4 linked regions of the Homo sapiens genome follow. The protein of the gene in region 1 interacts with the protein of each later gene in a pairwise test. Each region holds a gene or a part of one and is shown on either strand. Other genes may lie near its edges. The genes, in order: PTK7, PTPN12, TPTE and MTMR6.

The links.
Region 2: the proteins of PTK7 (region 1) and PTPN12 interact in a two-hybrid assay, tested with the Homo sapiens proteins (one study listed by BioGRID and IntAct).
Region 3: the proteins of PTK7 (region 1) and TPTE interact in a two-hybrid assay, tested with the Homo sapiens proteins (one study listed by BioGRID and IntAct).
Region 4: the proteins of PTK7 (region 1) and MTMR6 interact in a two-hybrid assay, tested with the Homo sapiens proteins (one study listed by BioGRID and IntAct).

What each region holds. Positions count from the first base shown.
Region 1 is NC_000006.12:43,127,018-43,136,065, reverse strand, and holds part of PTK7 (inactive tyrosine-protein kinase 7 isoform a precursor), read right to left. Parts: intron 7,090-9,048; coding exon 6,802-7,089; intron 6,340-6,801; coding exon 6,237-6,339; intron 5,837-6,236; coding exon 5,646-5,836; intron 5,556-5,645; coding exon 5,405-5,555; intron 4,051-5,404; coding exon 3,902-4,050; intron 3,646-3,901; coding exon 3,379-3,645; intron 1-3,378. UniProt on the Homo sapiens protein: Inactive tyrosine kinase involved in Wnt signaling pathway. Component of both the non-canonical (also known as the Wnt/planar cell polarity signaling) and the canonical Wnt signaling pathway.
Region 2 is NC_000007.14:77,623,511-77,632,558, forward strand, and holds part of PTPN12 (tyrosine-protein phosphatase non-receptor type 12), read left to right. Parts: intron 1-3,194; coding exon 3,195-4,165; intron 4,166-8,837; coding exon 8,838-8,915; intron 8,916-9,048. UniProt on the Homo sapiens protein: Dephosphorylates a range of proteins, and thereby regulates cellular signaling cascades. Dephosphorylates cellular tyrosine kinases, such as ERBB2 and PTK2B/PYK2, and thereby regulates signaling via ERBB2 and PTK2B/PYK2.
Region 3 is NC_000021.9:10,523,496-10,532,543, forward strand, and holds part of TPTE (putative tyrosine-protein phosphatase TPTE), read left to right. Parts: intron 1-1,084; 5' UTR 1,085-1,193; intron 1,194-3,859; 5' UTR 3,860-3,917; intron 3,918-9,048.
Region 4 is NC_000013.11:25,243,684-25,249,498, reverse strand, and holds the end of MTMR6 (phosphatidylinositol-3,5-bisphosphate 3-phosphatase MTMR6), read left to right. Parts: intron 1-6; coding exon 7-267; 3' UTR 268-3,277; downstream 3,278-5,815. UniProt on the Homo sapiens protein: Lipid phosphatase that specifically dephosphorylates the D-3 position of phosphatidylinositol 3-phosphate and phosphatidylinositol 3,5-bisphosphate, generating phosphatidylinositol and phosphatidylinositol 5-phosphate.

The sequences.
Region 1 (9,048 bases):
CAGGCACATGCCACCACACCTGGCTAATTTTTGTATTTTTAGTAGAGACGGGGTTTCAGCACGTTGGTCAGGCTGGTCTCGAATTCCTGACCTCGTGATCCACCTGCCTCGGCCTCCCAAAGTGCTGGGATTACAAGGCGTGAGCCACTGCACCCAGCCATTTTTGTATTTTTAGTAGAGATGGGGTTTCACCATGTTGGCCAGGCTGGTCTCAAACTCCTGACCTCAAGTGATCCACCTGCCTCGGCCTCCCAAAGTGCCACCACGTTTTGAAGTGGTTTGCTATGTAGCAATGGATAACTGATGCCGAAGCCAAAGTCCTTACTATGCTTTTACAAGGCCTATGGGATTTAGTTTCCACCTCTCAGGCAACTTCAACCCCTCTCACCATCGTTTATTCAACTCAAGCCACACAGGCGACTACTGTTCCTCCAACATACAAGCCCATTTCCATCTCAGGGCCTATCACATGGCTGGCTCCCTTCTTAATTTAAATACCAACTCCAATGCACCTTTTACAGAAGTCTTCCCTAAACTCTCACTGGCCCTGCCCTTTCTCTATCACTTGCCCTATTTCATTGTTCTCCCTTGTTCTACTGGCACCTAAAATTATATTTGTTCATTTGATAGTTTTTCTTACTGGCTTTGTCCCCGCTGTTAGAATATGAACTCCACAAGGAGAGGGGCTTCTGCCTGCTTTGTTCACAGTTGCATCCAGTACTGGGAAGAGCTAGCACAAGGTGCTCGACAAATCTCTGTTGACTGAATGCATTCCCAGAGCTCTCCGTCTTCTGGGCTCTACCCTCTAACACCCAGCACCTGATCTGGCCCTGTTTGCATCACACACTCTCAAATGCCACAGGCCTCCTTCTCAGAGCACAGCAAGGGACACTGGCATGGCTCAGTGTCAGCCTCAGTCAGCATCTGTGGAATGACTGATCAAAGCCAGAGTTCCCCAACTTGAACACACATGAAGTATCACCCAGAGCACTTGTTAAATACACATCTACCTGGGTCCCACCCCTAGAGCCTGGGTTGGAAGCTGTGGAGTGGGGCCCCGAATTCTGCATTTTTTTTCTTTTTTTCAAGGCTCCAGCAATGTCTTAGACATTTTTTTGGAGACAGGGTCTTGCTGTCATCCAGGCTCCAGTACAGTAGTGTGATCATAGCTCACTGGAACCTCCAGCTCCCGAGCTCAAATGATCCTCCAGCCTCAGCCTCCCAAATAGTTGGGATTATAGGTGTGCATCACCATACCTGGCTAAATTTTTTTTTTTTTTTTTCCTGAGACAAAGTCTCGCTCTGTCACCCAGGCTGGAGTGCAATGGCACGATCTCGACTCACTGCAACCTCTGCCTCCTGGATTCAAGCAATTCTCCTGCCCCAGCCTCCCAAGTAGCTGGGATTACAGGTGAGTGCCAACATGCCCAGCTAATTTTTGTATTTTTAGTAGAGACGGGGTTTCACCATGTTGGTCAGGCTGATCTCGAACTCCTGACCTCGTGATCCACCCACCTCGGCCTCCCAAAGTGCTGGGATTACAAGCGTGAGCCACCGCGCCCAGCTAACTTTTTAAATTTCTGTAGACACAAGGTCTCACTATTTTGTCCAGCCTGGTCTCAAACTCCTGGGCTCAAGAGATCTTCCTATCTCGGCCTCCCAAAGCACTGGGATTATAGGTGTGAACCACCACGCCTGGCCTGTGTTTTAAAAAGTATCCCTAATGAGGCCGGGCATGGCAGCTCACACCCATAATCCCAGCACTTTAGGAGGCCGAGGCAGGTGGATCACTTGAGGTCAAGAGTTTGAGACTAGCCTGGCCAACATGGTAAAACATCGCCTCTACTAAAAATACAAAAATTAGCCAGGTGTGGTGGCACACACCTTTAAACCCAGCTACTTGGGAGGCTGAGGCACGAGAATCACTTGAACCTGGGAGGCGCAGGTTGCAGTGAGCCAAGATCACACCACTACACTCCAGCCTGGGTGACAGAGTGAGACTCCGTCTCAAACAAAAGAAGAAAAAGTATCCCTAATGAAAGCAGGTGATTCTCAGACCTCAACTGGAGGAAGGCTTGACTGTGCATCTTGCCTTTGCACCTGCACTGTGAGTGTCCTGAGCACTCGTTACACATGTGCTGTGATTCCCACCCAAATCACGGCCTGAGTATAGGTGCATGTCTTCTAAGATTTCAGTATCCTAATGGGAATACTAGCATCACAACTTCACATTTACAAAGCCACTTTCATATTCAAATCTTTTTGCAAAGTTACCCACTCGGAAAGATAATAGTAACATAAAGGTAAGTGGAAGAAGCAGATTGCAAAATAGTTTGTATGTATGTGTGTCTCTGTGTGCATATTGTAATTTTTATTGTGTATCCTTTTAAACTACCACAAAAGGTTTGGAACAAGGCATGGTATAAAGAAATAAGTAAACAAATAAATCCCTATGCCTGTAGTGAGGATATAAGGTTTGTTTTGTTTTGTTTTGAGATGGAGTCTCACTCTGTTGCCCGGGCTGAAGAGCAACGGTGCGATCTCAGCTCATTGCAACCTCTGCCTCCTGGGTTCAAGCAATTTTCCTCCCTCAGCCTCCTGAGTAGCTGGGATTACAGGTGTGCCCCACCACGCCCAGCTAATTTTTGTATTTTTAGTAGAGATGGGGTTTCACCATGTTGGTCAGGCTGGTCTCCAACTCCTGACCTTGTGATCCGCCCGGCTCGGCCTCCCAAAGTGCTGGGATTACAGGCATGAGCCACCGCGCCCAGCCTGATATAAAGGGTTTATCATGTGTACTTTCAGTCATATGTCTTGCTTTTCTCCCCCTCTTTTTTTTCATAAGTAATATGTTTAGTAAAGAAATTTGGAAAGCATAACAAACTAAAACAAATTAAAAATCACCTATAATTTTGTCCACTATTACCTCCCAAAAAAGAAAAAAAGAAAAATCATTTTCATCTACTTCATTTGACCTTTCCAACCACCTTGTGGGGTAGGTAGTAGATTACTGGCTCCATTTTATGGATGAGGAGACTGAACCCCAGTAAGGTGGGTGATTTGCTACCATCGTCACTCTGTGCATTGGGAGCATAGTGGGACCCAGGTCTCTAGATTCCTAGTCTATTGCTCTTTCCTCTGTACCCAGAGGACCATTTTTCTGTGAGGGCTGTCACTATTTCCTCTGGAGCACCCACCCTAACCCCTGTGCCTGGCTCTCTACTGTCTACACCGACTCCCAGTAGTGAACTGATTCCCAAGCCTGCAGGGCCCAGAACTGAGAGGACCTCAGGTGAGTACCAGGGAAGCCTCTGTCCATCACACCCAGACCTGTGTTCCCCTCCACCTCTCCTTGACCTTCAGGGCAAAGGTGCTCACTGGCCACAGTGATGTTGACATCCTGTCTCCGCTGACCAGCCAGGTTGGCCGCGTGGCAGGTGTAGACACCAGCATCACTTTCAGCAATATTGGCCAACACCAGCTCGTGGCCCTTCTGGTAGACCCTGCCATGGGTGGGCAGCCGGACTCCCGCGTGCTCCCACCACACGCTGGGCTCTGGCAGACCCTTGGGGGGAAGGCAGGTCACACGCTCCTCGCTGCCAGCTGTAAACACCCGTGGCTCAAATAGCGGCATGTCTTCAATCTCTGCAAGGACATAAGTAGGAGGAATGGCCCAATTATTGTGGGTCTCAGGGTACATGATGTTCTCCCACAGCAAGCCTAGGCCCTTTCCCAGCACAAACCCTCCCCTGCAGCCCTCTGCATATCCTCTTCCTACTCCCAGCATCCTTTTCTTCCCCTGCCCTCCAAGCGGCTGAGTAAAAACAGAAGCCTAAATCTCTATGTGCCAAAAATGTTAAAGGCAGCCTCCCACATCAGCACCCCAGACCCAGAGACTCACCTGCTAGGTGAAGTGTGGCTTCCAGGATGATGGGTGGGCCCCTCTGCCCCTGGCCAATGCAGCGGTAGATCCCTGCATTGCGTGGCCGGACCTGGGTCAGCAGCAGAGACCCGTTGGCAAACACTGTGGCTCTGCGGAGGTGTGGGGGGCTGCAGAGGGGAGAGTGCAATTTGGAGAAAGTGGCCAATAGGCCTAGTTCTGGAAAGGAATGCAAGGGAACCCCTTTCCTGCAAAGTCGGAAATGTAGTAAGGAATCGACCAGGAACAGGGCAGAGAGAAGGAAGCTGACACTCCAGACTGGTGTGTGTGCCTGCATACACTTGCTCAGGTGCACGTGCAGGTGTGTGTTCCAACTACAGGAGATCAGCTCGGGAAGCAATGAGGCAAATGGCAATGCAGGTGCGAGAGAGAGTGATATGGTTTGGCTGTGTCCCCACTCAAATCTCATCTTAAATTGTAGCTCCCATAATTCCCACATGTTGTGGGAGGGACCCAGTGGGAGGTAACTGAATCATGGGGGCAAGTCTTTCCCGTGCTGTTCTCATGATAGTGAACAAGTCTCACGAGATCTGATGGTTTTAAAATGAGGCATTCCCCTGCAGAAGCTCTCTCTCCTTTGCCTGCTGCCATCCATGTAAGACGTGACTTGGTCTTCCTTGCCTTCTGCCATGATTGTGAGGCTTGCCCAGCCATGTGGAACTGTAAGTCCAATTAAACCTCTTTCTTTTGTAAACTGCTCAGTCTCGGGTATGTCTTTATCAGCAGCATTAAAATGGACTAATACACAGAATAACCACCATGTGCAACTGTCAAGACAGGGAAGCCACCTTCCCACAGGGCCACGTTGATAGGGCACCCAGCTCCAGGGTCAGATACCCCTCAGCCATACCAGGCAGGCTACTGATGATGTCCTCAGGGCTGAAGCCAAGTGGCATCCAAGCCCCTAGCCTAGGAAGCCACACCCCCAAGGACCATGGTCGTGCCTGACACTGCAAAGGTGTTCTATGTTCTCCTAGGGTCCAGGCAAGAACAGAAGTCCCTGCAGTAGGGCTGGAACCTTCTAGAGGTGTTTGCTTCCTCTAAAAAGTGTGTGTGTGTGTGTGTGTGTGTGTGTGTGTGTGTGTGTGTGTGTGTGATGTCTTTGCCACACTGGATCACGCTATCTAGACTATGACCACCTGACTACCTAGGTCTCTTGTGTCTCTCTCATCCCTGGGGTCTCTACCCTTCCATCCCAGAAGACCCATGTGGGTGGTGGGGAGAGAGAAGTGGAACCATCACTAGCTCAGAGTGCCTTTGTGCAAACTGGAAAAGGGCTCTTCCCAGAGACTCTTCCCTGTGTCAGACTCATCTTGTAAAAGCAAAACATTCAACTGTGTCTCTTGGAAATTTGAAATAATACATGTACAAATCTGTGATGTCTGTGATACAAATCGCACCCCCTTCTACAGAATGCATGTGTGTGGTACATGGTACTGGAATGCTCCCAGCCAGATGCCTTACCGACTGCGGTTAGTGATGGGAGTCTCATCCTCAAAGAGCCACTGCAGGCTCGGGGGTGGCTGGGCTGAGAACTGGCAATGGAACATGGCCTCCTCATACCTCGCTACTACCACGTCCTGGGGTGCCAGCACCACCCTGGCAAAGCTTTCATCTGGAGAGGGAAAGATGGGGGAGCATGCAGCCTGGGTGGTGAGGCCCTCCTGTGCTCACCTCATCCCTTCCGCCCCCACCCCAGGCTCACCAGCAATGCTCAAGGTGAAGTTCTGGCTGCTGCAAGCCTGGCCAAAAGCACTGTGGGCGCAGCAGGAATACAGCCCACTATGCTCAGGACCAGCTGGCCGGAGCGTCAGGTTCCGCTCCTTGCTGCTGACTGTGTGGTTGCTCTGACCATCAGAAAGGGGGGTCCCATCTCGGAACCATTGGTAGGTGGGCCTGCAGGGCAGACACAGTCAGCAGTGGTGGGGAGGGGTACTCAGTGGCCAGTGGAGAGGATACAGTATCAGAGGGTCAGGGCTAGACCTTTCAGTTTATACATGGAGAAACGGCCTGAGGAAGGGAAGGGACTTGCAAAAGGGCACACAGTAATTCTGATTCAGGGGCAGAATCAAGTTGATATTAGATCTCCCAGCTCTACACACAATGTGGCTCACTCTTCAGGCCACCAGGGGCCGGCATAGGGCAATATCTGGGGGAGGGCAGGGTGAAGAGCACTGTGGTGGTGGAACGAGTGGTCACAGAATGGAGCGAGGTAACATCCGCATAGAGTCCAAGATTTGGGGAGACATCCCTGTCCGGAATAACCCTCTTCATCCCCACCTCCCTGACTCCTTACCGAGGGTGCCCATCAATGTGGCAACGAAGTGTGACCTGGGTCTGTGGCTGGATCTCAGCTTCCGAGGCTGGATGCTTCAGGACCACAGGACCTGCCTCAATCCCTGTAGCAGAGGCCACGGTTGCAGTGAGGGGCAGAGCAGGGCAAAGGCGGGAAGGCAGAGGGCAAGGAGGACAAGCAGGAAGCCGTGGAACCTCGAGGCTCTGTGCCAACAGACACAAGGAAGCCCTGGAGGCTGAGGCTGGGGCTACAGTTACCAGATACTAAGTGCCTGCCTGGTCCCTGGCAGGTCAAGTCTGACACTTGGCCAAGGGCTCGGCCGCCCTTTCCATTTGCACAAGCATGCAGCAGATAAATGGGTCCCAGACTTGAAGGAAAAAATTTTGGAAAAAATATAACTTTTAATTTCCTCTTATCCACATGAGCAAAAAAAGCTGATGATAAATGCATTCTGCCTGGCCCGTTTAACTGGAAATGGGAGAAGCTGAGGTAAGGGAGGGATCCCCCAGGCCTCAGTCATTGAGGGTCTGACAGGGGGACTGGGCACAGCCCCCCTGGCTCTCACATTTGATGTTGAAGGAGGCGTTGGCACTGCGGGCTTCTTCTCCAGTGACATCATCCCGAGCCACACACTGGAAGGTGCCAGAGTCCTGCAGCCGGTCCACAGCTGCAAAGCTCAGGCTGCTGCCCTGGGCGAAACGCCGCTCCGTGTCCTGGACAGGGGCCCCATCGAGCAGCCAGTACACATGTACCGGGCCCGGAGCCTCAACCTCACAGCGAAGCAGCGCCCGGCGCCCCTGCAGTGCATCCTGGGAGGACGGCTGCTTGATGAAGACAATGGCTGTCTGGGTACCTGTAGATGCAAACAGGGGAGAGGCAGGGTCAGGGGGAGCTGCAGCCTCTGTCCTAACACAGGCCACCTTGTGCACAGGAGGAAAGGGGCTGTGTACACAGGAGGCGTCCAGTAAGTGCAGGTGTGAAGGATCATGATGCCACAATTGCAAGAGTCCCCTGAAAAACTTTTCTTTTTCTTTTTGAGATTTCTTTTTCTTTTTTTGCTCTTGTCACCCAGGTTGGAATGTGGTGGTGTGATCTCAGCTCACTGCAACCTCCACCTCCTGGGTTCAAGTGATTCTTCTGCCTCAGCCTCTCGAGTAGCTGGGATTATAGGCATGAGCCACCACACCCAGCTAATTTTTGTATTTTTAGTAGAGACAGGGTTTCGCCATGTTGGCCAGGCTGGTCTCGAACCCCTGACCTCAGGTGATCTGCCCACCTCGGCCTCCCAAAGTGCTAGGATTACAGGCGTGAGCCACCACGCCCAGCCCCCTGAAGAGCTTTTCAACTGTGCTGAGTGCTCTGTAGGATACAAAGACACAGTAGCCTCTCCTCAAGAGGTCTGAAGACTAGAGGGGCACACAGAACACAGTTACAGTCACATAAATGCCAAATGAATGGGGTGGGCAGGCAGTAGTGACTTGAGCACGAAGGAAGAAGGGACCCCTAAGGGCTGGCTGCACAGGGAGGCTTCCTAGCAAAAGAGAGTCTGGGCCTGCAGGGTGAGATCACAGGAGGTTTTGATGCCAGGCTGAGGAGCCGGGGACACTGCAGGCCACCTTCCCCCAATACAGACTCAGGAGGTTTAGTAAAGTTAAATCATGACCCAAACAGCACCCTGGAAAGATGGCTTCACTCATGCCCCTCGACGGTGCCAGCATCAGAGGTGGCCACAGATGGGACGCTTTGAATCTCATCCGCAAATGCTCTGCAGCCCAACGTTTCCCAGACGCTTCTTTGAAAAAACCCAACCCATCACTGGAGAAGCCAAGATTCTCTAGAAACCTGGGCTACTGCCAAAAACAAGCCAAGGTCATTCCCATGTCCTGTTCTTTTTTTTTTTTGAGACGGAGTCTCGATCTGTCACCCAGGCTGGAGTGCAGTAGCGCGATCTTGGCTCACTGCAAGCTCTGCCTCCTGGGTTCACGCCATTCTCCTGCCTCAGCCTCCCGAGTAGCTGGGACTACAGGTGCCCGCCACCACGCCTGGCTAATTTTTTGTATTTTTAGTAGAGATGGGGTTTGACGGTGTTAGCCAGGATGGTCTCGATCTCCTGACCTCGTGATCCGCCCGCCTCGGCCTCCCAAAGTGCTGGGATTACAGGCGTGAGCCACCGCACCCGGCCCCATGTCCTGTTCTTTATCCCTGAAAATCCATCTGTGGCCAAGGTCAGCTTCTCTGTGTTAAGAGGAGAGCCATGTGGTTCCAGAGTTCCACTTGAAGTCATTCCCCTTCCTGCACCATTATAGTTCAGCTCTGGCCACAGGGTCCCCGCAACCAAAGGTGGAACTGCAGTCAGTGGGAACAAAGGAAAGAGGAAGAAGCCTACACTGTATGGCAGATGGGTTTAGGGAGGCGGAGGGCAGAGCCGGGCAGGTGGGTGGCATGGTTACGGCGGCGGCAGGAGCAACACACTGGACTTTGTTCCTAGCCCGCGTGGGCGACTTGCAGAGGCCTGGAGCCACTGGGCCTTGAACACAGAAGAGGACTCCCTGATCCCCCCGCCCCCGGAAGAAGAAATGGGCCACCTGGAACTGCTACACGAAGCAGCAGGCTCTGCCTTGAGCCAAACTGGCTGGGCAAGGGCAGAAAGGTACTAACGGAGTCTTTTCCATCCCTTCCCAAACCACTGGAAACTAATCTTGGCCTACAGAGCCCCTTCCAAGTCCCTGGAGGTGGGGTTCTGTTCTTTATGGCATGAGAATCAGTCTCCTCATAAAGTCAGTGTCAAGACAATTCCAGGATCCCCCAGGCT
Region 2 (9,048 bases), on another chromosome or scaffold:
GACCAGCCTGGCCAACATGGCGAAACCCTGTCTCTACTAAAAATACAAACATTAGCCGGGCGTCATGGCGCGTGCCTATAATCCCAGCTACTTGTGAGGCTGAGGCAGGAGATTCGCTTGAACCTGGGAGGCGGCGGAGGTTGCAGTAAGCTGAGATTGCACCACTGTACTCCAGCCTGAGTAACAGAATGAGACTCTGTCTCAATAAAAAATATGTAAATAAAATACTGATTATGGAAAAGTGGTCTCACCATGTACACGTAGGGAAAATAATACACCTCAATTTATATCAAAATTTTATCTCATCCTTTTAAAACTCATATTTTCTATTTGTATTATAATATGTTCTTAGGATAACCTATTGGTCTTTGCATATGCTTTATAAATTGTAGGAGGTGTCTGCAATTATTTTTGTTTTAGATCGCAAAAATTTGACAGCCACTCTTTCAGATTAAGAACCAACTTGTAGGCCAGGTACAATGCCTCACACCTGTAATCCCAGCTCTTTGGGAGGACATGGCAGGTGAATTGCTTAAGTTTAGGAGTTTGAGATCAGTCTGGGCAACATGAACATGGCAAAACCACATCTCTACAAAAAATACAAAACTTAGCCAGGTGTGGTAGTGCACACCTGTAGTCCCAGCTGCTTGGGAGGCTAAACTGGGAGGATGGCTTGAGCCCTGAAGGCAGAGGTTGCAGTGAGCCAAGATAGTGCAACTGTACTCCAGCCCAGGTGGCAGAGCAGGACCCTGTCTCAAAAAAAAAAAAAAGAATCTACTTGTAAAACTTGAACAGATATAGGAATATCTTATGAGAGTATTGCTGTCATTTTAATATGATCAGTATTCTGGAGATATTCATTTATCTTCTCATGTCCTAGGAATGTGGGAATGTGTCTAGAGAATCTGAACTTCACAGAGTCTTTATTTATTTATTTTATTTATTTTGAGACAGAGTCTTGCTCTGTCACCTAGGCTGGAGTGCAGTGGCGTGATCTCAGCTCACTGCAACCTCTGCCTCCCGAATTCAAGTGATTCTCCTGACTCAGCTTCCTGAGTAGCTGGGATTACAGGCGCACGCTACCATGCCTGACTAGGGTTTTGTGTTTTTAGTAGAGACGGGGTTTTGCCATGTTGGTTAGGCTGGTCTCAAACTCCTGATCTTGTGATCCGCCTGCCTTGGCCTCCCAAAGTGCTAGGATTACAGGCGTGAGCCACCATGCCTGGCCCACAGAGTCTCTTTTAAGGGGAAACCTGGTGTACCATGTGATTACTGCCAGTTATCTGGTTGGATAAAAAAAGGTTGATCACCTGGGGGGAGAAAAAAAAGCAAAAACTCTGAGGTGGGGTCCAGTGGCTCACCCCTGTAATCCCAGCACTTTGCGGGGGCCGAGGCAGGCAAATCACTTGAGGCCAGGAGTTGGAGACCAGCCTGGCCAACATGGCAAAACCCCATCTCTACTAAAAATACAAAAATTAGCCAGGTGTGGTGGCATGTGCCTGTAGTCCCAGCTACTCAGGAGGTTGAAGCACAAGAATTGCTGGAACCCAGGAGGTAGAGGTTCCAATGAGCCAAGATGGTGCCACTGCACTCCAGCCTGGGTGACAGAACAAGACTCTATCTCAAAAGAAAAACAGAACACAAAAACTTAAATATACAAGCCCTCAAGAAGTTTGCTTCATATAAAGTTCTTAAAAAGCAACAAAGCCTGGGCAACATAGTAAACCCTATCTTCTTCTTTGGTTTTTTTTTTTTTTTGAGACAGGATCTCATTCTTTCACCCAGGCTGGAGTGCAGTGGCATGATCAGAGCTCCCTGCAGCCTTGACCTCCCCAGGCTCAGGTGATCCTCCTACCTCAGCCTTCCTAGTAGCTGGGACTACAAGCATGCATTGCCACATCCAGTTAATTTTTTTGTATTTGTTAAAGACACAGGGTTTTGCCATATTGCCCAGGCTGCTCGCTCTCTCTCTCTCTCTCTCTCTCTCTCTCTCTCTCTCTCTCTCTCTCTCTCACTCTCACTCTCACTCGCGCTCTCTCTCTCGCTCTCTCTCTCTTTTTTTTTTTTTTTTTTTTTTTGGAGACAGTCTTGCTCTGTCGCCCAGACTGGAGTGCAGTGGCGTGATCTCAACTCACTGCCATCTCCACCTCCTGGGCTCAAGCAATTCTCCTGCCTCAGCCTCCCAAGTATCTGGGACTGCAGGTGTGTGCCACCACACCTGGCAAATTTTTGTATTATTAGTAGAGATGGGGTTTTACTGTGTTGCTCAGGCTGGTCTCAAACTCCTGAGCTCAATTGATCCACCCACCTTGGCCTCCCAAAGTGCTGGGATTACAGGCGTGAGCCACCATGCCTGGCCCCTATTTCTTTAAGGAAAAAAATAAAGGCAACTAGAGGGTATAACCCACCCGAACAAAGGAGTATACCCAGAAAGAGGAAAATGAGACCTGGGAAACAGGAGAATCTGAAACCAGAGAGAACATTAGCTCTGTGATGGACTAGGGAACCAGTAGTCCACACTGGAGCAGGAGGCCAAAAGTTACTAACAAGGATGTCTGTGGTATTGATACTTACTATGTGTGCTTGTCATTATTGAGAGGAGGTATACCAATCTGCAAGAAAGTTAGAAGAAAAGCTGAGTAACTGATGATGCATAGAGAGCTAAGCCATCAGAAATCCAAGGCAGTCATTAGGGGAAAACAAGACACTATAGAAGAAAAGATACGAAATCATGGTGTCATAGATGGGAATACTATCTGCAGTCATACGACTGAGGTAATGAAAAATTACAATATAACAGTATTGGAAAGATAGAGAAGGACACTTCCACAGTAGGAAGTCAGTAGAAAATGTGTGAAACAAAGATCAAGAAATAACTTTTGAAATAGTCTGAAATACAGAGGTGTAAATTTTAGAAGCAGCTATAAAAAAATGTTGAAAGTTGATGCCTCTGGCTAACAGGAGGGCTGCGGGGCAGAGACTATGTTTTTCATTCAAAGTCTTGTATTTGACTTTTTAAACAGTATATGTGTATTACCTTGATGAACATTAAATTTTCTTAGTCTGAAAAACTGCAGTTTTTATTCGCAACCAGATTGTAATGGCTCTTAATATGCTACTCTTAGCTACATAATTCTCAGGTATCAACTTGTTTAACAGTCTTAAAATGCCCTTTTTAAATGTTTGTTTTTCAGTTGCCTTGTTGAAGGGGATGCTAAAGAAGAAATACTGCAGCCACCGGAACCTCATCCAGTGCCACCCATCTTGACACCTTCTCCCCCTTCAGCTTTTCCAACAGTCACTACTGTGTGGCAGGACAATGATAGATACCATCCAAAGCCAGTGTTGCATATGGTTTCATCAGAACAACATTCAGCAGACCTCAACAGAAACTATAGTAAATCAACAGAACTTCCAGGGAAAAATGAATCAACAATTGAACAGATAGATAAAAAATTGGAACGAAATTTAAGTTTTGAGATTAAGAAGGTCCCTCTCCAAGAGGGACCAAAAAGTTTTGATGGGAACACACTTTTGAATAGGGGACATGCAATTAAAATTAAATCTGCTTCACCTTGTATAGCTGATAAAATCTCTAAGCCACAGGAATTAAGTTCAGATCTAAATGTCGGTGATACTTCCCAGAATTCTTGTGTGGACTGCAGTGTAACACAATCAAACAAAGTTTCAGTTACTCCACCAGAAGAATCCCAGAATTCAGACACACCTCCAAGGCCAGACCGCTTGCCTCTTGATGAGAAAGGACATGTAACGTGGTCATTTCATGGACCTGAAAATGCCATACCCATACCTGATTTATCTGAAGGCAATTCCTCAGATATCAACTATCAAACTAGGAAAACTGTGAGTTTAACACCAAGTCCTACAACACAAGTTGAAACACCTGATCTTGTGGATCATGATAACACTTCACCACTCTTCAGAACACCCCTCAGTTTTACTAATCCACTTCACTCTGATGACTCAGACTCAGATGAAAGAAACTCTGATGGTGCTGTGACCCAGAATAAAACTAATATTTCAACAGCAAGTGCCACAGTTTCTGCTGCCACTAGTACTGAAAGCATTTCTACTAGGAAAGTATTGCCAATGTCCATTGCTAGACATAATATAGCAGGAACAACACATTCAGGTGCTGAAAAAGGTAATAATATAGTGTCAAATACTTAAATGTCTTTCCTATGTGCTAGTCACTGTTTTAAGCACTTTAGCTGTATTGATTTATTATGTTTTATTCCACACTCTACCATAGAACCTACAGCAAAATCTGTCTTAGATACTAATTTTTTAATATAAGCTTTTAATGTATTGTTAACAATTTGGTCACATTATATTACTGGGTTTTGTGTTTCTAAATTATTTTAGTAGTTATAACTGGATAACTTATTTTCTTTTTCTTCTGTATTATAGATCTTAGTGTTTTTGTATCGGTCAAAAATTTATCTGACTGAATAATTAGAAATAATTTAGGGAAGAATCACTTAAAATAACAGTGGCAAAAATACTGTAGAATGTCTTGATTGGCCATATAATGTTACTCGTTTTTCCTAAATGTTTAGTCATTTTTTACTGTTCCTTTAACTACAGATTACATTTTTTTGTTTGTTTGTTTTTACTGTCTTCACAAATGCTTCCAAATATGGCTGCTTCCAACCCTGAGTTTAACCCAGGAACAATACTGCAAACTGCTCAATTCAGTAGTGAGTGGGCTATATGCATACCTACTCATCAAAGCTATTATTTAAAGAATTATTATTTTTTTAGCACTCTTAGCATTTCAAGATAATGCATGCACTCAGTTCCCAAAGTGTATTATTGCTTCTTGAAACTCCTCTTTGATCTGCTGAAAGTAATGATGGCTACCATCTTAAACAGACCCTAAGGTTGAGAGTAAACATATAAATTTGAAAGCTGTTTATTGATATATTGATTATCAGTGGTCACTTACCTATCAGTGAACTTTGGTAGTGACACATACAGACTGGTATTTATAACGTGCAGGCAAAATAAGTACTGTGACCTTGAAAGATTTTTTTTTTTTTTTGAGACTTGCACTCAAAAGATTTTTTTTTTGAGTCTTGCACTGTCACCCAGGCTAGAGTGCAGTGGCAAGATCTCGGCTCAGCCTCCCAAGTAGCTGGGATTACAGGCACCCACTACCACACCCAGCTAATTTTTATGTTTTTAGTAGAGACAGGGTTTCGATATGTTTGCCAGGCTGGTCTCAAATTCCTGGCCTCAAGTGATCTGCCCACCTAGGCCTCCCAAAGTGCTGGGATTACAGACGTGAGCTACCACACCTGGCCTTGAAAGATTATTTTCTATTTCTGACCCATTATATACCACCCATACTGTAGTGCTTGTATTTTCTCTCACACATACTGTATTTTTTAACTTGAGAGAGTGTATTTGGTAGACTAGATGACAGTCTTTTTGAGACAGAGTTTTGCTCTTGTTGCCCAGGCTGAAGTGCAGTGGCGCAATCTTGGCTCACTGCAACCTCCGCCTCCTGGGTTCAAGGAATTCTCCTGCCTCATCCTCCCTAGTAGTTGGGAATACAGGCATGCGCCACCATGCCTGGCTAATTTTTTGTATTTTTAGTAGAGACAGGGTTTCACTGTGTTAGCCAGGATGGTCTGGATCTCCTGACCTCGTGATCCGCCCACCTCGGCCTCCCAAAGGGCTGGGATTACAGGCGTGAGCCACCACGCCCAGCCAGGTGACAGTCTTAAACTATTTGCTTAAATTACAGAATTATCTTTTCTTGATTTATCTTTGTTTTATTTGAAGGATCTTTAGAAGATAATGAATAGTATAATATTACTTTACCAGTTTACCATAATTTTAAATTGCTAATGTCTTTTGTTCCTCAGCTTCAGAATTTGAAATATAACTGCCCAGCTGTAACTATATAAGAAAATATGTAGATAAGAAATTTTCATTTTGAGTTTTTAGTATATCAAGCATGTGGTATTGTACCTAGGAAGTTTTATTGTTTTTTTGTTGTTGTTTTGTTCTTTTGCTTTTTTTTTTAAAAAAAACCAAAAAACCATTACTGGAAATAGGATTTGGTGAGGGCCAGAAAGATGTATGATGTGATATGCTTATTAAAAGTTACTACTACATGACGAGTCTGTTGGTGGCTCATGCCTGTAATCCCAGCATTTTGGGAGGCTGAGGCAGGAAGTTCACTTGAGCCCAGGAGTTCATAACCAGTCTGGGTGACATAGTGACACCCAATCTCTACAAAAGATAAAAAACTAGCCGGGCATGGTGGTGCACACTTGTGGTCCCAGCTACTCTGGAGGCTGAGGTAGGAAGATCACTTGAGCCTAGGAGCTCAAGGCTGCAGTGAGCCATAATTGCGTCCCGGCACTCTGCCTGGGCAACAGAGGGAGACCCTGTCTCAAAAAAAAAAAAAAAAAAAGAGTAAGATATAGCTAAAAGCACCCTACTATGTGCCAGCTCATTTCTGTTTGTTTGGTTTTGTATTTCAAAGCAAAAATCACTATACATGTGATTTCTGGTTTCTTTTTACTCAACCTTAACTATGTTATTGGTTTGATTTTAACCGAAGATTTTCCTGTGTGTAAATGTTCTTTGTTGCAGCATAACTACAAGTAGTCTCATTTTTAATGTGTTGCCAAATATTTACCATATGGATTATTTACTTTATAGATTGTTTATTTACCTTATAGATTATTATTTCCTTTGTAGATCATTATCTTATAGAGCCATTGGCACCAGAATTAGAGTTTTGGGGGGTTTTTTGGTCCTAGAACTTGTTAGTGAATTACAGTCACACATTTCTTAATGGCAGGGATATGTTCTAAGAAAAATATGTCATTAGGCAGTTTTGCCATTGTGTGAATGTCATAGAATGTATTTACACAAACCTAGATGGTATAGTATATACTACACATCTGGGCCATACAATGTAACCTCTTGCTCCTAGGCTACAAACTTGTATAGCATATTACCATACTCAACAATTGTAACACAATGGTAAGTATTTGTGTATCTAAACATAGAAAAGGTACAGTAAAAATATGGTATCATAATCTTACAGGACCGCTGTTGTTTATGCGGTCTTGTTGATGAAAACATCATTATGTAGTGCATGACTATAATGGAATACTTTTGTATTGATACCTAAAAAAAACTTTTGCATAAGTTACTGCCTGACAAAAATTCTTAGCTATCAATTCTAATTTCAGTCTTGACTTAGGCCTCCTGAAAGATTTCTCAGATTCAACTACAGAAGGCCCCATACAGTGTATGATTTGCAAAAGCCTATATAAAATACGCAATATCTGGTTGGATAACCTCTAAAACAAAAGTTTTTAACAGGAAAGGCAGCCCAAAGTTCCAGGGAGAAACATGCATTTGCAAAGCAAGGGCCACGCTTAGAAAATAAAAGTTTTTAAGGGTGAGAACTGCCATGAGAGAAAAAGCACAGAGTTTCTGGAAGATAACTGATAGAAAAAGGGCTGAACTGCCCTTTTTGTTTTGTTCATTTAATTTAAGAAATGGTACCAGAATGCCAAGATTATGTGTCCCTTCCTTCCAACAGCCATCTCTTCACTGTGCGCTGTTAGTAGCAAGAGGGCAAGGAGACATATGGTGATGACTCAGACTACCACTACTGGATAAGGTAGATAGTTCTTTAGTGGCAAGAGAGAGTTCTGGTACTCTTGGTAGATGTATCAAGTATTGGACTGGAACTCCTCTTTCAGGAGGACCCAGAAGCTGTATTTTCTTGCGTCTCCAGCTAAATAAATGTAGGTGGGGCAAAAGCAATCATACTCACCTCATGCGTGTTGAAAATTGACAAGACCTATGCATAGCCATCAGGTGTGGTAAAATAGCAGAGTATCATGGCAGAACTGTGTGTTCATTTAAGAACAATGGGCAAGGCTCAAGACAAAATAATACAGGACCGTCGCATTTCTTTTTCTTTATCCCACCCTCCCCAACCTGAGAGTTCACACACAGGATTGTATTCTTATATTTTCTTTCTATTCCTCCAGTGAAAACTCAAAGATCAAATACACTCATTTACCTTAAGCCATAATAAAGCTAACCAATGAGGCTTACTTAATGCACTCTCTTTCCCAAGAGCTAATTTTGTTTTTACTAGTGAAAAACCTGTATATAGCTTCAGTCAGCATTCTCAAAGTACAGCCATGTGCCACTGTACACAAAATCTTTAGCAATAAATAAATGAAGATTTTTTAAAAAACTTTAATAGCTATATCTTTATCTGTTTTGGAAAAATAACTAGTATTTCCAATGTTATTTCAGTTATTGCTGTTTAAGACATGACTGAGGTACACAGTTAAGTTTAAAATGAGTCAGATTTTAAAAGTGAATAGGACACATGTTACATAGTATGGCAAAAATCATGAAAGGTGTTAAGCAATTGAATCCTGTTTGGGAAACACTGGCTTAGGCGTTTCATAACGCAAATGACCAAAGCTTTCCTTTTTGGACACAAAACATCATCAGTAAGCTCAGTAGAGAAGTCACTTGCCAGCTGACTTCTCTACTGAAGATTCCCTTCAGGCTTGGAGAACTGAATGATGTCTGTAGAGTGACAGGAAAGTCATGGGAGAGAGTCATTTCTGTATACATTATCTTTGCTCAATAAGCATCATAATTCTTGATAATGAGTGGAAAAGGTTTCTTGCATTTTTTTGCATTTTTAAAAACTGATCTAGATATTTGTGACAGGAATTTTTAGAATGTCAAGAAAGCTCTCTGATTTTGTTTAGATGACATGTTAATTTGTCTAAATTTTTATGTGTTTAATTTAGATGTTGATGTTAGTGAAGATTCACCTCCTCCCCTACCTGAAAGAACTCCTGAATCGTTTGTGTTAGCAAGTGAACATAGTGAGTGTCTCTTTTGCTTTTACATTTACTTCATATTCTAATAATAAACTCCGAAAAACATACCTGATTTTAATCTATTAGCTATTGTGCTACATAATTAAATTCAAAAACAAGTAAATTGATGTTGACATGC
Region 3 (9,048 bases), on another chromosome or scaffold:
TGGGTCCACGTGTTCTCATTGTTCAGTTCCCACCTATGAGTGAGAATATGCAGTGTTTGGTTTTTTGTTCTTGCGATAGTTTACTGAGAATGATTTCCAATTTCATCCATGTCCCTACAAAGGACATGAACTCATCATTTTTTATGGCTGCATAGTATTCCATGGTGTATATGTGCCACATTTTCTTAATCCAGTCTATCATTGTTGGACATTTGGGTTGGTTCCAAGTCTTTGCTATTGTGAATAGTGCTGCAGTAAACATACGTGTGCATGTGTCTGTATAGCAGCATGATTTATAGTCCTTTGGGTATATACCCAGTAATGGGATGGCTGGGTCAAATGGTATTTCTAGTTCTAGATCCCTGAGGAATCGCCACACTGACTTCCACCATGGTTGAACTAGTTTACAGTCCCACCAACAGTGTAAAAGTGTTCCTATTTCTCCACATCCTCTCCAGCACCTGTTGTTTCCTGACTTTTTAATGATTGCCATTTTCAAAGAATAGTATGTTTTTAAGTCTGTGCAGTCTTGGGCCAAGCTCGTTCTATTCCCCATTCTACAAGAATCACAAGAGCGCTAGGATTCTGTTTGGGGTTGCCGTGGACACAGAGTTCTTACTACAGAACTGACTTATTCTCAATAGGAGGTAAAGACCTAGAGGTGAGGTCTCTGAGCAAGGGAGTCCCATCCCATCCTCTGCCCTCTCTGTTGGCTGTTATCCTCTCATCTTCATCAGGAGAATTAAAATCATGTAAAGTTTTGGCGGGGGAACTAGATGGTGGTCTCTGCGGCCCATAGACAGGAAAGTTTGCTTATACCCAGCTGGGGGGACCACTAATTGACATTCCTTTCCCCTCCCAGGGACCTTACAGAGTCCCCTTACCCTCACGGTACTGGGGGACAACCCGTGGGTGTAAGGCCAAATAGCAATAACCTTGTTACTTGCCAGGAATTGGGTCAAGATTTGATTTAACAAGCTTGGTTTTGGGAACTAAAAAAATGAAAAAAGGAAAAGCCATAATCTTGAAAGGCAACAAGAGAGAAAACTGCTAACAGGATCTTGATTAAATTTCTCCCTCTTAGAGAATGTTGGACCGACGACACAAGACCTCAGACTTGTGTTATTCTAGCAGCTGAACACACCCCAGGCTCTTCTGCCCGGCAGTGGCTCTGGAAGCAGTCTGGTGTATAGGTAAGCATGTCCAGGGCTTATAGGGAGAAACTCCCAGAAATCCAGCTCTGCCTTGGGTTGCCCTGGTTCACGTCCAAAGATGTGCTTGGGCCACATCTCTGGAGCACAAGGTGGTAGACTGAGAGCTTTGATATTTCTACTCCTACTGCAGATGAGCTGGTATAACTCTGAAGGTATGGAATTTGCTGTTGTCTGTGACCCAGCAAATAAAAATAGAAAAATAATTCGATAGAAAAATAATAGAAATAGAAAAAATTTAAAAAACAAACCAAGCCTCATTCTATGACATTTTAGGCAGTGTGATAATATGCATATACTGGTCACTTTAATCTTTCCTACAGGGGCAGCTGGTTGCCCTAATGTTGGATGCTCTGTTCAAGGATGGTAAGCTAGTGTTCAGCTCAGGAAGCCACTCCACAGAGATGGCCACCAAAAGGGCTTCAGTGGTCCCATCTCAATTAACACCTGAAACATTGTTAATTATTACAGTGAAGGTCACAAATGGGTTTTTATTAGTGAAATTGGCGGCTTACAAAGCAGCATGATGGATGTTACAATTATATGACATTTTAAGATCTGTGAATCAACTAACGTGTTTTGGAGACAGCCCACCCTTGCATAAACAGGATAAAGGTGTATGAGGGTGGCCTGTAGTGTATATTTAGAGACGACACCCAAGGCTTGATCCTCATATGGTCCTATCTCCAGGAACGTTTAGGAAGATTTTGGCCTCTGAAACATTAGGAATCTGTTGAGAATGAAGCTTTCATGCTTGGAGTACCTAAAGTGCGGAAAGCTTACAGAAGCTTATATACTGTGTCTGCTTGCTACTGAATGTTTTGTTAAATGAATATCTGTATGTGTGGCAGATTTGGTCGGAGACCTACTTTTCATTATAACCTGGTAGCATGATTATAAAGGTGTAGCTAACCTTCAGCTAACTCAAACTTCTGTGGTTGCTCCTATCTACCAAAAAGCATTTAAGAATTCTGCATGACCACTTCAGTTTAGGACGGTTTGCAATTCTCACCTTCCTTAGGGGGCAATTTAGCTAGTTACTTATTCATGTCCCATGAGGGAAGTCATTCTGTGCCCCAAAGCAGCTTATCAAAGTATTATTTCAGACTTCATGCAGTACTCTCCCTGGAGTTCAGGTAACATCTATGGATGTCTCGTGCCCTTTTTGGAGATTAGTTTCCCAAGGAACTTGCTTAGCAATCCTGGCTTGTCACCTGAATCTGGAGTAATTTGAGTGTCTTCCAGTTCTCTTCCTCAGTAGAGGATGTCTGAAAAATCTAGTAATCATTTAATAAGGCTGCTTATGTCAGAAACTCAAATTCTTACCTTTTTGGTGTTTTGAACATTTTCCCCTGTTATGATTTATTAGTGTATTCTGCATAGACAATCCAATTATTCATCCTGCTGAAAAGTAGCGGATGCCTATAGATGCCTTTCTTTTTGTAAAAGGTTATTGTTTTTCCTGAGACCTGGATGAATTTCCAGGAGCCATTCAAGGACATGAGAACACCCACTTAGAACTTGAAAGGTTCCCCTCATGGCCCTCAGACCAGGCTAACGAGATGCGATAATTTGAACTCTGGCACTCCTTTCCTCACAGGCTGAAAGACTAGCACAATATTAATGTCTATCTGTGCTTAAAGGTTGGAGCTATTGATCAGAGTCCAAAATTAGTTTGTGTAGGGGAACTTTTCTTAAAGACATAAAAAGATACCATTTAATATATTGTTTCCAAAATGTGTTTCTCACACATTTCCACTGTGAGAAAGAGGTTCTGTGGTCAAATAGGTTAAGAAACCTCAGCACACTCTTAGAGAATCCCAGTTGTTATCAGCAGCAAAAAAATGTATGTGATCAGTTTCTTAAACTTATTTAAACGTTTGAAAAGTTAGAAAATTGTGGTGAAGAGCATTAATTCTTGAGTCTTGGGAGTGTATTACCTTGATGAGAATGTTTGTGTATTTGAAACTAAAAATGTGTATCCGTTTATATTGCCACATACTGATTTTTATGGCATAATATATGGTGTAGAGAGCAGGTTGTCTAAAAACCAATATTGGCAAAATGCTGAATATTCAGCATGGTTTTATGAAGTTGACAGATGTGGAGTGTATTTTGCATGTGTCTTAACTTACAGATGAGGAAATGAAGTAGCAGAGAGATTAAATTAGCCAAGCCAGGGGTTTCGGTGCTAGGAAGTCTTGATATTGTAAAACATAGCCATATAACTTTAAAAAAATGAATCCAGACAAAGAGAAAACAAAATCATTGTAAACACATAATCCACTTTAAGTTCACAAAATGTTTTAAACATAATTAAGGCTTGACTTATCTACTTGTTTATTTCCTACCAAGGATGACCGGGAACTAGCCATTGATATAGAAACATTCATTATTCTTACATTTTCTTTCTTTTTTCTGTGTCCCCTCTCTCTCTCTCTCTCTCTCTCTCACACACACACACAGACACACACACACACACAGTCTCAGAAGTACTAGTGCTGTATCCTGAAATTGTTTCTTTAGTTCTTGTCAAAATTCCTCCGATTTTATTTTTTGTGTCCTGAAATACTGTTGAGATTAACATCCTCATTGCCTTCCAAAATATCTGACTTTATTTTTTGTATGTGCTTTTTACTCTTTGGTAGAGTTATGGATTCACTACCAGATTCTACTGTATGCTCTTGACAACTATGACCACAATGGGTGAGTTGACTGATCTAAGTGGTGAAAAATACTGGGAGCATCAATGGCAATAACAGCTTTCTATCAGAGACTTTAAGCATCTTTGGTAACATTGTTTTTGAACCAGAGTGGAAAAAATAAGATCAGGTCAGAAGAAGGATGCTTGGTACTCAAAGATTGTTTGTGACTCTAAGTAATTAGCAGCCAAAACCTTAGGAAACTATCAGAATGCCTGTGTATGAGACTCTCTTCAAGAGTGGTCCAAGAGAGGAGAGAATCCTACTTGGAGAAAGAAGGTGGTAGCATTGGACAGGCAGCAGAGGAGCCCTCAGCAGCAAGAAAGGAGCTAAGAGACCCTGTATCTGTCCCTCACCCTTCAGAGCTGGTGCCCCAAACTCAAAGCCATCATCACATTGGATGGAGCCCCTGCCTCAGGTTTAGTCACTTGATCCTATTTGAGGAGAAGCAAAGATATCTGTGACTCATGAAGAGCATGAAGGTGGTGGAGGGACTTGATAATTAGGAAATCAAAATGGGCAAGAATAATGTGTGCCTACAAATGGGACATGAATTTGAAGGAAATTTAAGTTAAATTTGCTGCCACACATGATGATCAGGTTCAGTAATAATTGTATTTAAATCTTGATTCATTAAACTTTTTTGAGAGTCCTAAACAATTTTTATTACCAACACATAGAGACTTCTTTCTAGAGAAAAATCAAGTACCAGGTGCCAAATAACAGATTTACATGAGAATTTTTAGGGACAACACATTGTAATTTGTAGCGCAATCATAGCCAATTTGAACCAAAAAAAAAAATCGTGTATACATTTATGTTGTTTCTTACTATTTACCTTTCAATCCTTTGCACTGACTCCAATGAATTGACATCAGAAATCTGTGCTGGAGTCAACAATGAAAGGGGATGTCATAATATATATTGGAGATGGGAGGAATTCAGGTTTGTGAAATTCAGTCTCAGAATTATTCATGGGAAAATAGTTTTCTGGACACTGATTCTAAAATTCTTTCTAAAAAGTTGGGTTTTAAGTAAGCTAAGTCATATTTACCATATCTTTTAGATTCAAGGAATTTTGTTGTTCAAATAAGTTGGTCATATCACCGCTCCATGTGGCAAATCTCTAATATATTTTTGCATTTGATGTTTGAAGTAAAATGCAGCAACCTTACATAGAGCTTTATAATAAGCTTCATGTGTTCAAATATAATTGGTACTTTTATAACTGATGCTGTTTGTGTTATACTCAGAAAGTTACTTCTTATCGTAAGATTACCAATATAGTCACCAAAATATTTTTTTATATTTTGAATTAATTTTCCACATTTAAATAAAACAAGTGCTGCTGCTGTTGTTACTATTCCCTTTTAACGTCTCCCCAAATTAGTGTTTTATTCTGTATACTTTATGAGATGGCAGCTTAACAATACCCTTAATATGGCCCAAGGATTCTACAAAAGGAAATGCTGGTGTGTTTGTCAAAAGTGTTTTCTGGCTGGGCATGGTGGCTCAAGCCTGTAATCCCAGCACTTTGGGAGGCTGAGGCAGGTGGACCACGAGGTCAGGAGTTCAAGACCAGCCTGGCCATATGGTAAAACCGCGTCTCTACTAAAAATACAAAAATTAGCTGGGCATGGTGGTGCATGCCTGCAGTCCCAGCTACTCGGGAGGCTGAGGCAGAAGGATCACTTGAATCCGGGAAGCAGAAGTTGCAGTGAGCTGAGACAGCACTGCTGCACTGCAGCCTCGATGACAGAGCAAAACTCTGTCTCAAAAAAAAAAAAAAAAAAGTGTTTCCTGTGCAGATTATCTGTTCACCACTTGCAGATTTGAAGTTTACTAAGCATGTGTGATATCTAAAAGTTCATTTGAAGGATAAGTTTCAATGCCAAAAATGTTTAAAAGTGGGATATAGGAAGATGATGCAAAGATGGAATATCCAAACATTTCCATTTTCACCAGGAGGACTTAATAGAATGTCTAACAGCTACTTTTAGATATTTTTGAAATGTGAGAGGGGTGAGTTAACACAAAAGTAGACTGTGAGATTAAAATGTCTGTTCACTCTAAAATCTCAGCATTCACTTTCTTATTGTTAAGTTATTCATCAGACTCTTTTCAGAGACAACCTAAATGCAAGCTCTTAGAATATTACAACATCTTTTATATGAGATGACAGGAAATAATTTCATGGCCTTTTAAAGGATAGATGAGGGAATTGAATACCACTTTCAGATTAAGTAACTCCTCTATTGAATATTACACTGTTTTATGGTTCATATCTCTATTGTGGTTGAGAGGTATTGCCAGATTTATTCGCTGACAAGTAAATATTATTCAGTTTATAATTAATATCCATGTTGGGGGGAGATACTTTCAGTCTATGTTAAAACTATTTTCAATGTTCAGTATCCTGTTCCACATAAAACTTTCATGCCCTAGTTTTAGCATTCATTGATTTTTATGTGAATCAGTTGTAACTGTGATCATTACAAAATGGTGATTTTTTTTTTAAAAAAAGTAGTTTTTCTGTGTTTAATAAGTATCATTCTATTATAAGGAGAGCTATTCCTACCCCTATTTGTTCACTATTACTATGAACTTATAAATTCTTACATTATTTCAATGAATTACAATCCTTTCTGTCATTATTTATTTTGATCTTTAAATGGTCTCATATTTGGCCAGTGGGACTCCCTAAAAGCTAGCCCCTGTGTCCTTTTGACTTGACATGTTCCCATCACTTTTTGAGCATTTCCCCAGCCCTGGAATCAGCCATTTACCCAAAGAACCTCATGCCCTTTAGAAACCAATCAATATTTTGCATTTGGTATGCTGATTGCCATTGGCTCATTGCTACTTGTAGGCCTTTTTAATATCTAGATGAGAGTACAGATATACATATTGACATATACAGATATATGCACATATGCAACAATTTTAATATGTTTAATACACAGTATATACATTTATATGTGTTCTGTAAACTATGTATTATTGTTTTGCCTATATGTTTTTAAATTTACTTAAATGGTATTAAGTTGTATCTCATTTTGTTAGTTTTTTGCATAGTAACATAAGATTATTCTTCTTGTGCATACCTTTCGTTGTTGCTTTTAACTGGTATGAAAAATTGCACAGCATGCATCCCCTAGTGAGGAACACATATATTGCTTCCTACCATTTGCCTTCACAAAGAGTGCCGCTAAATAATTATCCTTATGCCAGACCCCTATAGACCTGTTTGAGTATTTCTGTAGGAATATGAAACAGGACTTGATGGGCCATGGGATTGCATATTTTGAATTTGACTGAATACTGCCTATTGCTCTCACAATGGTTATACCAGTCTGCATCTCCTGAATAATGCATGATGGTTCCTACACATACACATTCACAACAACACTTGACATTATCAAACTTTCCAATTTATATAATCAGTCTAATAGATGGTAACATATTGCATTATGTTTTACTTTGAATTTATGTGATAACTTATGAATTTGAGCATCATTTTATGTTCTTATAGCATTTGGGATTTCTTCTGTAATGGTCCATTCATGAACTTAGCCCGTTTTTCCACTAGTGTTCCTATCTTTGTCTTGTTAATTTACGTGTGCTGTTTTTGAATATTTTATATTTTAGAATAAGTTAATCAAATTTCTTTTAAAATTATGTTTAATTTTCAAAGTGATTATGTTACATCTGTAAACAATATAGCAAGAATTCACTCTTTTTAGTAACATTAAAAACATGGTGTTATTGTTTGGAGATTTGTACCCCCAAACCGTATGTTGAAATTTGATCCCCAATGTCGGAGGTGGGGCCTAATGGAAGGTGTTTGGAAGATGAATAGATTAATTCCCTCCCTTGGAGTGAGGGTGAGTGAGTACTCACTCTATTAGTTCTTGCAAGAGCTGGTGGTTTAAAAAGAGACAAGCGGCTTCCCGCACCTTGATTCCCCTCTTGCCATTTGATCTCTGCACGTGTCAGTTCCCCTTCATCTTCCACCATAAATGGGAGCAGCCTCAGAAGCAGATGTTGGCATCAGGCTTCTTGTGCAGCACACAACTGTGAGCCAAATAAACCTCTTTTCTTTATAAATTACCCAGCCTCAGGTATCCCTTATGGCAACACTAAACAGACTCAGATGCATGGAATCCCATTCAAAAGTTTGGACTATCGCTTTATGTATTCAAATCATCCTTCATATCAGTTTGAGACATTGAAGTTATGTGCTCTAATCCGTCATCTGCCTGTTAGCTTTGGCATTGTTGTTCTTCATTCTCTTCATGAAATAACTTTTTGCCTTATTATTTTACTTTTGAAGTTTGAAATTTTCCCACTTTCAGTCTACAAAGGTAATTTCTAATCCTCATAGTTTTAATTTACACATTTAATGCTTTAATCTACTTAGAGTCTACCCTTCAATATGGTGTTAGGTGGGGATTTGGTTTCATTTGTCTCCCAGTGGTAGGCTGATTTTCCAAATACCATCTATGAAACAGTTCATCCTTTTTCCTTGTTTATGTAATCATTGTCAATGACATATATCCACATAGGTTTATCTCTGAGCTCAATATTTTGGTCCATTGATACTTATGGCATCCCTACACCTTTTTTTATTAGCATGATTAGTTAAGTTATTAATGGAGCCTTTATATGTTGACATAGATTTTGTAGTAAGTATGTCAATATTCTAAAAAATTTTGAAAAATACCTATGTGGGCCCTGTGGTGTTTGGGAGAGGGAAGGGCTTTAAATACTAGGTTGATTTCTTTGTTACTTGAGTATTCTATTTCTATATAAATATATTTTCTTGCACTAATGTTAGTGTTTTATATCCGTCTAGGAATTTTTCCATTCCATCTAAGTTTTCACATTTATTAGCATATAATTGAATAATCTTATTTTAAAAAAATTTAGTTGTGTTCTAGTTATGCTCCCTTCTTGTACATTTTATTTGGATATTCACTCTGTTTGTTCTTGATTATTATTGCCACAGGTCTATTGTAGTAATCTTTGCAAAGATACACACTTTTGTTTTGTTAATCTTCTCCACGGTTTTTTCTTCTCCAGTTCAGTGACTTATGCTTACCTCCTTATGTTTTGCTTCCTTATTACTCCATAGA
Region 4 (5,815 bases), on another chromosome or scaffold:
TTCTAGAAAATTAAACAACGCAAAAATAAGCAAACAGATGGCATCCTCACCAAGGAATTGTTACATTCAGTTCATCCTGAATCACCTAACCTCAAAACTTCCCTGTGTTTTAAAGAGCAGACTCTGCTACCCGTAAATGATGCTCTTCGAACTATAGAGGGCAGCAGCCCGGCAGATAATCGTTATAGTGAATATGCAGAAGAGTTTTCTAAATCAGAACCTGCTGTGGTCAGCTTAGAGTATGGTGTGGCAAGAATGACTTGTTAGACTCATAGAGTTTTTTCTGCAATGATTGCAGTACAAGAAAAGGATTATTGTGAGGATGGTCTGTAAGCATAACCAAAAGGAATTTGTCTAATAACAATTTTAGGGTTTAACAGTAGGCTAATAGTTGAAGGAAGGATAATAACTACCCTTGTGAGAGAAATAAGTCATTTTAATTGCATTTCCAGCAAGGAATGACATTCAGTTCTGTAAGAAATGAGTGGTATTTGATGTATTTACTCAAAACACAATTTGCACTGTACACTAGTGAATTGACGTTTATGATTTATGTTAATTCAGCCAAACATAAATAACCTTCCTTAAGTACAATTTAACTTCAAGAAAACAAAATTTGACAACATAGTTTCTTAATAAATGATATGGCATGTACTTTCAATTATGTAGCTTTGTAACTATGAATATTTACATATTTTGCCTTTTAGTGATATTTAATGTTAAAGTGCCATGAAAAATATTTCTAAGAAAGCCTTAAATTCCCAGTGGATTCTTTACCCTTAAGTTTTACAGCCTACAACAAGATTTTTTGTTTTGTTTTTCTTCTGGTCAGCCTTGTTTTGTTTGTAAAGAATTGTGCTCTCATTACTGCTGGGGGTGCATGCTACAATACTTCTATATAAACACTTGTAGAAGTACACTGTTCACGTTTAGCCTGCCCCACTTTTGTATTCAAAATTAATGAAACTGAAGGTTTATTCTGATCATAATTTGTTTAGTGCTACATTTGATAATTTATTATTTACAGCTTAGAATATTGATTTCTTGAATACGTATAAGCACATTTGACTGTCTTTTATATATGGATTACTGCATTCCATTGATTCTTATTTTGTGGTTGGCTTTATTTCTTTCACAACTGTGTAAGTTTAAAGAGCTAAAGCTCTAAAACTGTTCTGAGAAACAATGAATAGTACATGTATATGTATATTTTTAAACTGCCTTATTGCTCAATGAGTTGCTGTTCCTGGAGTATCTAACTTTCAGTTTACTCAAAAACTTTTGGGTAAATAAAAAAGGGAAGTACAGATAGTTTAGGTTGTGCATGGTTGCATGAATTTTGAAGTCATTTCTATGTGGAGCATTATTTTTCTTCTTGTTAAATATAGAAAAAAAAAGAGATTCTAGTACAAAGTTACTGTTTAACAAAAGCAACATAAACTCTGGGAAAGATTTCATTTTGCCATGTTATATTTACTGTTTATTCTGTGTACTAGTACATATCTTTAAATTACCAAAAAACAAGAAACAAAACATAAAAACCCCAAAACTATCACTTGGAATTAGCAATATCACCCAACTGGCTTTAAAATTGAAAATTTAAATAACATGGTGGCATGAAGTACAATTCGAGTATTAGGCAATTTGCATAGTGTTCCTCATGCTACTTTCTGTTACACCTCTATTATATTAGTTTTGAATATAAACATCTTTTTCAGACCAAAAAAAACTTTATTGTATGAGAGCTTATCTTATCCTGTTTATTTTTCCAATGCTTTTCTGTAATACATTATGTAATTTAAAAAATATTCCTTTTTAAACAGCAACAGAAATGCACTATAAAATATAGTATGTGATTAACCAATCCTGCTTCCATATTTAAGCACTGGGAATGGAAACTTAATCTCTGTGACTACAAAGGGAAGTTTTTGTGCCTTGGTGTTCCAGTCACTGATTGTGGTTTTAGAATCTTCTGTGGCTGACTTCTTGTATTCAACTCTGGTTTATTATCTTAATCTTCAACTTCAGACATATATTTGTGTGTTTATATGCTCACAGGTGGACTGAGAAATCAGTTACATCTTAAGTGACCTACAGGGTATATGTTGGCAAAAGCAGACTGTGTATATGTCTTATAAAGTTGAATTTATGTTCAGTGTGTTTGGAAGTGTATAGCATGTAAATTACTTCATATATGATTTAAAGGTAATTAAATGTTCACATTTTACTTTGAATGTTTTTCTTCTGGATAAAACAAATGGAATCAAGTTGTAGTTGTTTTTTTTTTCTTCTCACCTAGGCAAGTAGACTTGCCCATTACATTAACATAACAGCATAAGGTTTGAGGAGTTTATTTTCCAAAAGTTTGTTGATAAATAATACCTGTTTCATACAAAAATAATTTCCAGAATATTTAAAATAGGTATAGTGGGCTAAAAGGCCCATCAGATGTAGGTAATAATGTCATTAAGTTTTCATTTTGTTCCTGTCACTTGCTTATATTACAATCACTATTTTTTTGTGCCCTTGCCAACTTGATGGAAGGCAGGGTCCATTGAGTACAAACATTCGAGGTGAAATGTCTCTCCAAAGGCAGATCTGGATGTAAATATGAGGAAGAAAATAACTGGCTGACAAGAGGATAATTTTATTGAGGGTGTTTTGAAAAGGTCAGCTAGGCTAGAAGTAGCTCAGGGAATCTTGAGTAAAGATGAAGGGAACTCTTTTAAAACAAATTCAATTTATTTGGTCGGGTAGCAGAGCAGGGAGGTGGTGTCAGTCAAGCCTGTTTTGAAACATTTTTTGCAGAAGGTCAGCTTTAAAATATTGAAAAATTTCCAGTTGACATGCTAAGTTGGATTAAATGCTGATCATTTATAAAACTATATAGTTGCTGCAAAAGTAATTGGGGCTTTTGCCATTGAAAGTGATGACAAAAACCGCAATTACTTTTGCACCAACCTAATACTACAGTTGCAGACTTTTATTAGTGACGCTGATCTTCATTAGTCAAGTTTTAGTTATTTTGTTGGCTTTTCCATGTAGAATTCCAAGTGACATTAACATACTTTGATTAATTAAAGAAAATTTGGAGACTGTTTAAGATATATGTCTAGATATCAATGTAAACTATAAGCTTTAGGAACTTACATCTAGAAGAAAGCCTGGAATCTAGAATAATTATCTCAAAAAAAAGTATATATACCATTGTACTTGATATAAGAAAATGTAAACATGAAACCTTGACATTTTAATAAACAGTATTTGTGCTACTCTAGTTATTTCTAGGAAAGTAAAATATCCATTTAAATGGCAACTTTTATAAAATAGTGGCCTGCATAACTGAAAGGAACTTTCAGAAGCTAGTAGTAGACTCTATAGCCCTGGTGTTCAGTTTCTGATTCAGTAGTTAGGGGTTGGGACTCTGGAGTTAAAATCATTTGCATACCAATAAATTGTTTGCACTTAGCAATATTTTGGATATTGTGATGCAAATGGTTGGGGAATCATACTTTGAGAAACACTGCTGTAAACCACCCATCATGGTCAGTAAACATCTTGTTTGTTCTTAAAGGGATGCCGAATTATTCTTTTTTTTTTTTTTTTTTTTTTTTTTTTGAGACGGAGTTTCACTCTTGTTTCCCAGGACAGAGTTAAAGTGGCACAATCTTGTCTCACCACAACCTCCGCCTCTGGGTTCAAGTGATTCTCCTGCCTCAGCCTCCGGAGTAGCTGGGATAACAGGCATGCACCACCACACCGGGCTAATTTTGTTGTTTTAGTAGAGACGGGGTTTCTCCATGTTAGTCAGGGTGGTCTCAAACTCCTGACCTCAGGTGATCCACTGGCTTTGGCCTCCCAAAGTGCTGGGATTACAGGCGTGAGCCACCACGCCCCACCTCAGAATTACTCTTGTATAAAGAGCAACAGGCTAGGGAGCATCACACTTCTGAAACATTGTGATACAAGTGGGAGTGAGAAATAAACCTTTGTTTTAAGCCACTGAGAATTTGGGCTCTTTGTTACTGTGGTGTAAGCGTGCCCCTCCTGAGGGATGAAACCATTTGTACAAATTTCTGTTTTTCCATTAGTTCCCAAATGGCCTTTGTCCTGCTATTTTGCGTCAGTAGCCAGCTGAGGTTTGTGCATTGCATTTGGTTGTAGCTCATCAGTCTCTGTGTTGAACAGCCGGTCACCTCTTCCCCTCTGCATTGACCTTTTGCACCAGACCAGTTGTAGTTTTCCCACTTTCTGCTTTTGTCTGATTGTTTCTTCGTGGTGTAATTTAACTTGTTCCTCTGTCTACTGTACCTGCTGTCAAGTAGGTACTAGATGAAATTCAGAGTTAGCATTTCAGGAAAGATGCTGTGTACTTAATATTGAATTACTGCGGGAGGATATAATGCCAGGTGGTTCCATTGTTAGTGACGCTAAATTTAATCACTTGGTTATCTTTTCATTGTAAAGATACATTTTTTCCCTTTGAACTCAGCAAATGCTCTATGGGGTGATATTTTGGCATCAAATTGAATATCCCTTTCCTTAACAACCTATCCATTAATTATACTTGCCCAAATCAGTTATTTCTTTGGTGTTACAAAATGCTGATTCTCTAATTTTGTTTTAACTTTTTACACTTATTTGCCTGCATTTGTTTGTTTGTTTGTTTGAGACAGAGTCTTGCTGTGTTGCCAGGCTGAAGTGCAGTGGCGCAATCTCGGCTCACTGCAACCTCCGCCTCCCGGGTTCAAGTAATTCCCCTGCCTCAGCCTCCTGAGTAGCTGGGACTACAGGCACGTGCCACCATGCCTGGCTAATTTTTTGTATTTTAGTAGAGACGGGGTTTCACCATCATGTTGGCCAGGATGGTCTCAATCTCCTGACCTCGTGACCCCCCACCTCAGCCTCCCAACATGCTGGGATTACAGGTGTGAGCCACCACGCCCGGCCTTGCTGGCATTTTTAAAAGAAGTGCTGGGTCCAGTGAGTACACATACACTGGAAAGCAGTGAGAGGTGAGGCCAGCTGGACTTCTGGGTCAAGTGGGGACTTGGAGAACTTTTGTGTCTCAAGAGGATCGTAAAACGCACCAATTAGCACTCTGTAGCTAGCTAGAGGTTTGTAAAATGCACCTATCAGTGCTGTGTAAAAACGCACCAATCAGCACTCTGTGGCTAGCTAGAGGTTTGTAAAATGCACCAATCAGAACTCTGTAAAATGGGCCAATCAGCACTCTGTAAAATGGACCAATCAGCACTCTGTAAAATGGGCCAGTCAGCAGGACATGGGCGCAGACAAATTAGGGATTAAAAGCTGATCACCCCGCACCCCAAACCCTCCCAGCCAGTAGCAGTAACCCACTCGGGTTCCCTTCAACGTTGTGGAAGGTTTGTTCTTTTGCTCTTCACAATAAATCTGGCTGCTGCTCACTCTTTGGGTTCCTGCCACCTTTAAGAGCTGTAACACTCATTGCGAAGGTGACTTCCTTCATGAAGTCAGCAAGACCAGGAACCCACCAGAAGGAACAACCTCCGGAAACAGCAGGGTCCAGTGAGTACAAACATTCAAGGTGAAATGTTTCTCCAAAGACAGATCTGGTTGTAAATATGAGGAAGAAAATGACTGGCTGAGAAGAGGGTATTTTTGTTGAGGATGTTTTAAACAGGTCAGCCAGAGTAGAAGTAGCTCAGGGAATGGAGTAAAGATGAAAGAATTTTTTATTTTTATTTTTATTTTTTGAGACAAGTCTCGCTGGATCACCCAGGCTGGAGTGCAGTGGTGCCATCTCGGCTCACTGCAACCTCCGCCTCCCTGG